Linked DNA regions of Homo sapiens. The protein of the gene in region 2 purifies or fractionates together with the protein of the main gene of each other region. This does not show direct contact. Each region holds a gene or a part of one and is shown on either strand. Other genes may lie near its edges.

The links. The genes of interacting proteins can lie anywhere in the genome.
Region 1: the proteins of ZBED3 (region 2) and NLRP7 purify together in Homo sapiens (co-immunoprecipitation; one study listed by IntAct). This does not show direct contact.

The regions. Positions count from the first base shown.
Region 1 is NC_000019.10:54,923,531-54,927,030, forward strand, and holds part of NLRP7 (NACHT, LRR and PYD domains-containing protein 7), read right to left. Parts: intron 343-3,500; coding exon 210-342; 3' UTR 1-209. UniProt on the Homo sapiens protein: Inhibits CASP1/caspase-1-dependent IL1B secretion.
Region 2 is NC_000005.10:77,084,486-77,088,653, forward strand, and holds the start of ZBED3 (zinc finger BED domain-containing protein 3), read right to left. Parts: upstream 2,801-4,168; 5' UTR 2,626-2,800; exon of another isoform or gene 2,230-2,625; intron 612-2,229; exon of another isoform or gene 1-611. UniProt on the Homo sapiens protein: Acts as a positive regulator in the activation of the canonical Wnt/beta-catenin signaling pathway by stabilizing cytoplasmic beta-catenin. Involved in transcription activation of Wnt target gene expression.

The sequences.
Region 1 (3,500 bases), on a different chromosome or scaffold from region 2:
TATTATCCCTGTGAGAAAGTACATAGCGTCATGTGAAGGGGGTGCGTGACTCGTGCAGAATCTCCCAAAAATAGTGAGAAAACCAGTGTCAAATCCTACCTCTCGACAGACTCTAGTGTTAACATGTGACCCTCTGACCTGCATTCATAAGACATCTTAGAGACCCGAATCCCGCTTCCTGTGTAATTCGTAGAGCGATCCCAGGCTGCTCAGCAAAAAAAGTCACAGCACGGAGGTGCCGTTGCCCCGGAAGCATTGCAATCAATAGTCAGCTTGGGATTCTTTTCTTTCACTTCCTCCAACAGCTTCTTGATTTCCAAATTAGTTTCATAGGTCTTCAACCTGGAGGGATCAGAGAACACAAATGTTCCCAGAAATTCATTCTCAACTACCCAGGATGCCTGAATATCTGTTTTCAAACACTCAAAGCAGGAAACGTTTTTGGGATTTTCTGGGGGACAGGGTCTTGCTCTGTTGCCCAGGCTGGGGTACAGTGGTGCCATCTTGGCTCTCTGCAACCTCCAGCTCCCAAGTTCAAGCAATTCTCATGCCTCAGGCTCCTGAGTAACTGTGATTACAGGTGTGCACCACCACGCTTGGCTAAGTTTTGTATTTACAGTAGAGATGGGGTTTCGACATGTTAGCCAGGCTGGTCTCGAACTTCTGGCCTCAAGTGATCCATCCACCTCGGCCTCCCAAAGCCATGGGATTACAGATGTGAGCCACAGCACCCAGTCAGAAAAGTTTTCTAAAAAGAAATTTAGACCCACACAATGGGGATCCTTATAAGTCTAAGAAAAAAAAGATTATGGCCAGGCACGGTGTCTCGCACCTGTAGTCCCAGCACTTTGGGAGGCCAAGGCAGGCAGATTGCTTGAGCTCCGCAGTTCAAGGCCAGCCTGGGCAACACGGTGAAACCCTGTCTCTACCAAAAATAGAAAAAGTTAGCCAGGAATGGTGGTGCACGCCTATAGTCCCAGCTACTCGGGAGGCGGAGGCAAGAGGATCACTTGAGCCCAGGAGGCGGAGGTTGCAACGAGCTAGAGATTGCCCTACTGCACTCCAGCCTGGTAACAGAGTAAAACATGCCTTTAAAAAATAAATTTAAAAAATAGATAATCAGGCTGGTGCACGGTGACTCACGCCTATAATTCCAGCACTTTGGGAGGCCGAGGCGGGCAGATCACCTGAGGTCAGGAATTCGAGACCAGCCTGGCCAACATAGTGAAACCCCGTCTCTACTAAAAATACAAAAATTAGCTGGGCATGGTGGCAGACAACTGTAATACCAGCTACTCAGGAGGCTGAGACAGGAGAATCGCTTTGAACCTGGGAGGCAGATGTTGCAGTGAGCCAATACCGCACCACTGTACTGCAGCCCGGGTGACAGAGCGAGACTCTGCCTCCAAATAAATAAATAAAAAATAGTGGCAAATCAAACCTTCAGTAGAACTAAGAGAATGCCAGAGTGAACCCCAGGGTTAATGATAGCAAACTTGGCTCTAACGTGGCTGCAGCATGCAAGCCTGTGTATGTGAACATGAGGGGTGGTGATTGTGGAGACACTGGCTTGCTATGTTGCCCAGGCTGGTCTCAAACTCCTGGCCTCAAACAATCCTCCCACCTTGGCCTCCCAAAGGAGGAACTGAGGAATGAGAAAAGAAATACGCCCCAAACATATGACATAAGAGACCACAGGGGGCTAGAGATTTGTCACCAATAGTCCTTGGTGGCATTACAGACCTCGGTCCCACCAACAAGAGAAGCATGACACTATTTAGCTCAAGTTTCATGATATACCCCTAAAACCTTAACCCATTTATGCCAGAGGTTACAATTATTTGAACTGCAGACGTGTGAAAAATCGTACCTTGAGCAGGATATAAATAACTCCCACATGCTTAGCGTTCCAATAATGCAACACTGGGCATCATGAAGCAGTTTACATGCGTATCATCTCTACAACTAAAATAACTCTTGAATAAGACAAGTGGGCTGTGCACAGTGGCTCACGCCTGCAATCCGGGTACTTTGTGAGGCCAAGACAGGAGGATCGTTTGAAGCCAGGAGTTTGAGAACCTCGGCAACACGGCCACACAGTGCAGCAGAGCAAAACGTTGTCTCAGAAAAGAAAAGACAAAGGCAAGAAGAAACTAAAGGTAGATTACGTTAAAATAAGTCACTGAGGCCGGGCGCGGTGGCTCACGCCTGTAATCCCAGCACTTTGGGAGGCCGAGGTGGGCAGATCACCTGAGGTCAGGAATTCGAGACCAGCCTGGCCAACATAGTGAAACCCCATCTCTACTAAAAATACAAAAAATTAGCCGGGCGTGGTGGCGGGCGCCTGTAGTCCCAGCTGCTCGGGAGGCTGAGGCAGGAGAATGGCGTGAACCCGGGAGGTGGAGCTTGCAGTGAGCCGAGATCGCACCGCTTCACTCCAGCCTGGGCGACAGAGACTGGAGTCTCTGTCTCAAAAAAAAGACAGATTCAAAAAAAAAGACAGACTCCGTCTCAAAAAAAAGACTCCGTCTCAAAAAAAAATAAAAAATACAAATAAGTCATTGAAAAGATATACACGGGTCACAACTAAGGGAGCATCTGTAGGACGATCTTCTGAAAAGCTAAGACCCAGGACAGCTCTGGGAACTACCTATTTTTGGATATAATGATTAGGGGTGTGTGTGTGTGTGTGTGTGTGCTCATGCACACACATACACACAAGCTTCCAGTCTGTACTCCAGGATGATTTAAACTCTCAGTATGCCTAGGACTAAGTGTTTTGGGGGAAAGTTGGACAATATTCAATTCACAGAGCATTTTAGAAAAGTATCTAATTTTTAAATTATCTCCTAAGCTAGGAGTGTGCTATAGAAAGATGCCTTAAGTTGATCCCTACAAAGAGTACACACACTCCCAAAAAAACTCTTCTCTGCATGGGAAATTCACCATGTGAAACAGCCATCCCAGGGCCGAGCACAGTGGCTCACGCCTGTAATCCCGGCACTTTGAGAGGCTGAGGCAGGTGGATCACCTGAGGTTGGGAGTTTGAGACCAACCTGACCAACATGGTGAAACCCCATCTCTACTAAAAACTACAAAAATTGGCCAGGTGCAGTGGCTCATGCCTGTAATCCCAGCACTTTGGGAGGCCAAGGCGAGAAGATCACCTGAGGTCAGGAGCTCGAGACCAGCCTGGCCAACATGGCAAAACCCCATCTCTACTAAAAATACAAAAATTAGCTGGGTGTGGTGGCGAGCGACTGTAATCCTAGCTACTCAGGAGGCTGAGGCAGGAGAATCACTTGAACCCAGGAGGCAGAGGTTGCACTGAGCCGAGATAGCGCCACTGCACTCCAGCCTGGGGGACAGAGAGAGACTCTGTCTTTAAAAAAAAAAAAAAAAAAAAAAAATTAGCCAGCTGTGGTGGTGTGTACCTGTAATCCCAGCTACTCAGGAGGTTGAGGCAGGAAAATCGCTTCAACCTGTGAGAAGGAGGCTGC
Region 2 (4,168 bases):
GTTAGGCCTCCCTAGCCACGTGGAACTTTAAGTCCATTAAACGTCTTTCTTTTATAAATTGCCCAGTCTTGGGTATGTCTTTATCAGCAGCGCGAAAACAGATTACTAACACACTGTGGTAAAGGTGAAATCAGTGCTCACTCCTTCGGGTGAATTCCGTCACATAATCTCCACTGGGGAAGGGGTGGGCATGGGCAGCTCCTGGGAGCTGATGTCTTAGGGGCCCTAACACAAAAGTTCATGCAGTTCAGCATCCCTTCCCCTCCCATGCCCCACAGGGCACAAACGCATTGTTGTCCATCACCAAAACACATTACCCTTAGTACTCGACTCTAATGAAGTTCCAGTTCCTCAGTTGTATAACGAGGCTTCCAAGCTCCTATTTTAAAAGAAAGTTTCTTGAAGCTAAATAAAAGCACTGCTAACATGAAATTAACAGTGGAAATTTTTGAGTGTAATTTCAGGGTGAAAAAAACTGAAAAGACAAATGTAGATTTTAGATATTTCAAGGAAGGAGAGAGAGTAGTGTTGCTGGTACCATGCCTCTGCACTTGCTATAGCTGAGTTTCATTTGAGTATCCATTATTTGGAAGGAGTTCTTAAATCTAAGCCTGTGGAAGACAATAAATTCACATTAATTATCTCTCCATTTGACTCAATTTCTGAAGAAGTTCTATCCTTCTGATGAACTATCAGATTAAATCCCAGATTCCTCAGTATGATGTCCCTGAATACCAATATAAAGAATAAAGGAAGAGATCAAAACCTGGATGAATAATCTGTATAAACATGGGCATATACACAAGGTATGACTATAATATTGAGACTCATCCTATAAAGCACCTACAAAAGTTGATTGTATTATTTTATACTTATGCTTGTGCACATAAAAAATATTTGGCAGGCTAAAGGCCAAAGAACCAGGCACTGTTCTCAAAAGGACATAGCAGATTAACTACACCTCTATTTGTCCTTCTATACTCAAGGCTACTTACTGTAGTTGGGTTGACCAGGCAGAGTTTAAATCAATATATGTTGGTTGAGCCTGGATCTTAGATGAGAAATTCACACTAACGTGAAATTCACACAGACATATGTGGAAACACTAAAAACATTTTCTTTTACTTCATCCACCAGTGACTTTAATGAAAGCAGAGCATAATAATTAATACAAGTAATTAGAGTTGACAACTGAAGTGTCAAGAAAACCACAGTTCATCTGTTATCCGTCCATCTCTGTTGAAATATTAGTTTACTGCCATATATTAATCTATTTATAAAGAGATCCAGACAATTAGAAAAATTAGTCTGGAATCACCAGGCTGAAGGCTTAGCTGAAGTTAAAAGACAAGTAAAAATGCCTCCAAACTGTAAAACCTGAGTTGGGGAATAAATGGTAAAATGTGTAAAAATTTAGAAAAAGGTTATATGTGGACTGTAAAAAATACACTGGACTCACAGGTAATTAAGGGGTGAATCAGAGTTGTTTCCTAAATGGCATAAGCCAAACTCTTAGATATTTCTACCATTAGCTAAAAGGCAGAGAAGCACTCTCTCTCTCTATTAATGCACTTTTAAAAATGAAAATTGTGAAGTGTTCTGCCCTTAAAGTGGACCTTTATTTCAGGTCTGCATTACTTTGCTTAATAGATATGGTCCTAAAGATTAAGGTGGTGATCCATTTTATCTTGTAAAAATGCATAATTTAATCTGAGTTATAGGAATTTAAAGCTGCCCTACTTTGAAGGCCTTTGTGACTCAAAGATTTTTTTAATTTAATTTTTAAATTGAGAATTACCTGGCTTGGGCTTTTGGTCTTTTTATAATACGTATTGCTGTCTACTTTTTTTTTTATTCTTGGCTGCCTCAAGCTATTCTTGCCTCCAAAAGGTGTCAGCATATGAATAAAAACAGCAGAAAATAATTACCCTAATTAGGTCAATGTATTAAGCTGTTTCTACAACTGTTTCTCTTAAACACCTTATCTTTGTAGTCTTGGCTCATTAGAAATTCGACTAGTGGTAAGTATTTATTTTTTTCCTTCAAGGGGGTTTTTGCTTTGCTAAGCCTCGGGCATTTGGTTCGTGCAAGAAATCACAGAAACTGCTCCAGCGGACTCCGAAAGGAGCGGAAAATTCTTTTGTTTGGGGGCCATGAGGGGTGGGGGAGGGGTGGGGATTCTGGTGTAAGCTTTTGGCTTGCATTCGCTTTCTCCCTCCGAAAGTGGGCGACATCAAGCAAGTCCCAGTTACAGAAAGAACCCACTGCAGGGCGTCCAGTCACTTGCCCAGTGAAAAGACTGTAATCAGACAACTTTAATAAAGGGAGAGCAGGAGAGTGGTGACGAATTTCCACATTCCGAACAAGCTTGTCGAAAGAGGAGTGCAGGGAAGGAGCAAGAATGAGGCACTGGAAGACGGTGAGCGGGGCCTTGCCACAGAATCCCGGGCCCACCTGCTTTCTCACAGTCGCGACAGCCGGCCCGGAGAAGGGCAGCCCAGCGAAGGGCACGCCCCGCGCGGGTGCCAGGGAGGCCGGCAGGGGCGTCCGCGGTCGCTGCTCACCTGCGCTCCCCGCTGCCCGGCCCAGCCCGCCTCGCCACCGAGTCTGGAAGCCCACACTCACCCCTTTACCCGGGAAACGCGGCCGGAGCCGGCGGCGGGTCGGGAGTCCGAGATGGTAGATCCCCCTCCAGGCGCCTCGCTGACATTTTGTCCCGGACGGAAAACCTCCGCGCGTGCCCCTTAAAGACACAGCGCTGCATTCACACGTCTGCGGGGAAAGGGGGGCCGTCACGTGTGGCCTTCGCCCGAAAGCGGTAGGGGAGTCGCTCTGAAACCGCCAAGGATCGCGAGCGACAGATTTGTGTTGGCCAGGGTTTTAAGATGACGCAATAGCTGAGTGTGGTTGAAATGTAACTATTGTTTTACAACTTTGCATTAACCTTCCAAGACCTGAATTCCCGGGCCTGAGTCTCAGAGCGCGGTTTGCATCTTTGCAGGCTGTAGGCGCATGATGTCACAAGTTATTGGAAGAAATCCCTCCAACCTAGGTTGGGACAGATGAAGGCGGCGCTTATTGGTGTTCACCAAAACACCAGCATGGTGTACCAGCTTTGGCTAGATGATGCTCAGGTAACGAACAACCCCTGCAACTCAGTGGCTTAAAGGTCCATTTCTCAAGCGAATTACTGTGGCTGCAGGGAGCTTTGGCAGTACTCCACCAGTTTTCTTCACTCCAGGCTGAAAGGTCAACTTTTCTGGGCCATGCTCCCTGCTGGGCTGGTAAACCAACTTTGAGGGAGAAGGGGGAAGTCCAGATATGTAGTGTTTGCTATTTCTATGATGTAAATGCTCCCACAATGGCCGATTTCAAGCTACAAACAGTCCAACAAGTGGCTTGCCAAGTTCCTGGAAATTTAACAATTAGCTCCTGTACATGACTGGCACAAGCTGCTTTCCAAACTCACATTCCGCATGCCTCAGTTCTGCTCACTTTCTATTGGTCAAAACTTGCTGTCAGTGGGTGGGGAAGTGTACCCCTCTCTTAAGGAAGCCTTGCAAGTCTTGTGACAATGAAACAGGAGAGTTCCCTGATTTCCTCCCGGCCCCCGCCCTCCCACAGCCCTTTGCAGGACGTGCAACAGGGTTGTGGCTCGTGTGTTCGGTCTCTGCCTGCTGAAACCCCTTATGGGAGGTGGAGCATGCAGACGGACGGGTGCAGGAGCCAGGGTGCAAAAGCTGGGGCGCTGGGCTTCCAGCCCCACGGCAGTGTCCAGGGGCAGGATCCCGTGATTCCCGGAGCCCAAATGGGCGTGTGTTACAGTGTGCTCTTTTAGCCTTACCATCAGCTGACGGCTTAAGTGTTAACCAGCTCAATAGACCCTCTGCCTTTTTGCAAGCGCAGAGGGTCAGTGTGACAGTTTCTGTATCTCAGCTCTTGTCTCACCTCCCAGAAGAATCAGGTCACACATGGACTTGAAGGATGGTGAGTGCCGGGGTGGGGGCGGGGGTAGAGGAGTTGGGGGAAGGTTGGGGGTGTTTATTAGGTGGTAGGGGTGGCACTCAGTAGGATGGATGGGGAGCTGGAAAGGGGGTGGAGTAGGGAGATGATCTTCCCCTGGAGTTTAACCGTCCAGCGGTGGATTCTCTAACTGTCCCCAGCTGAA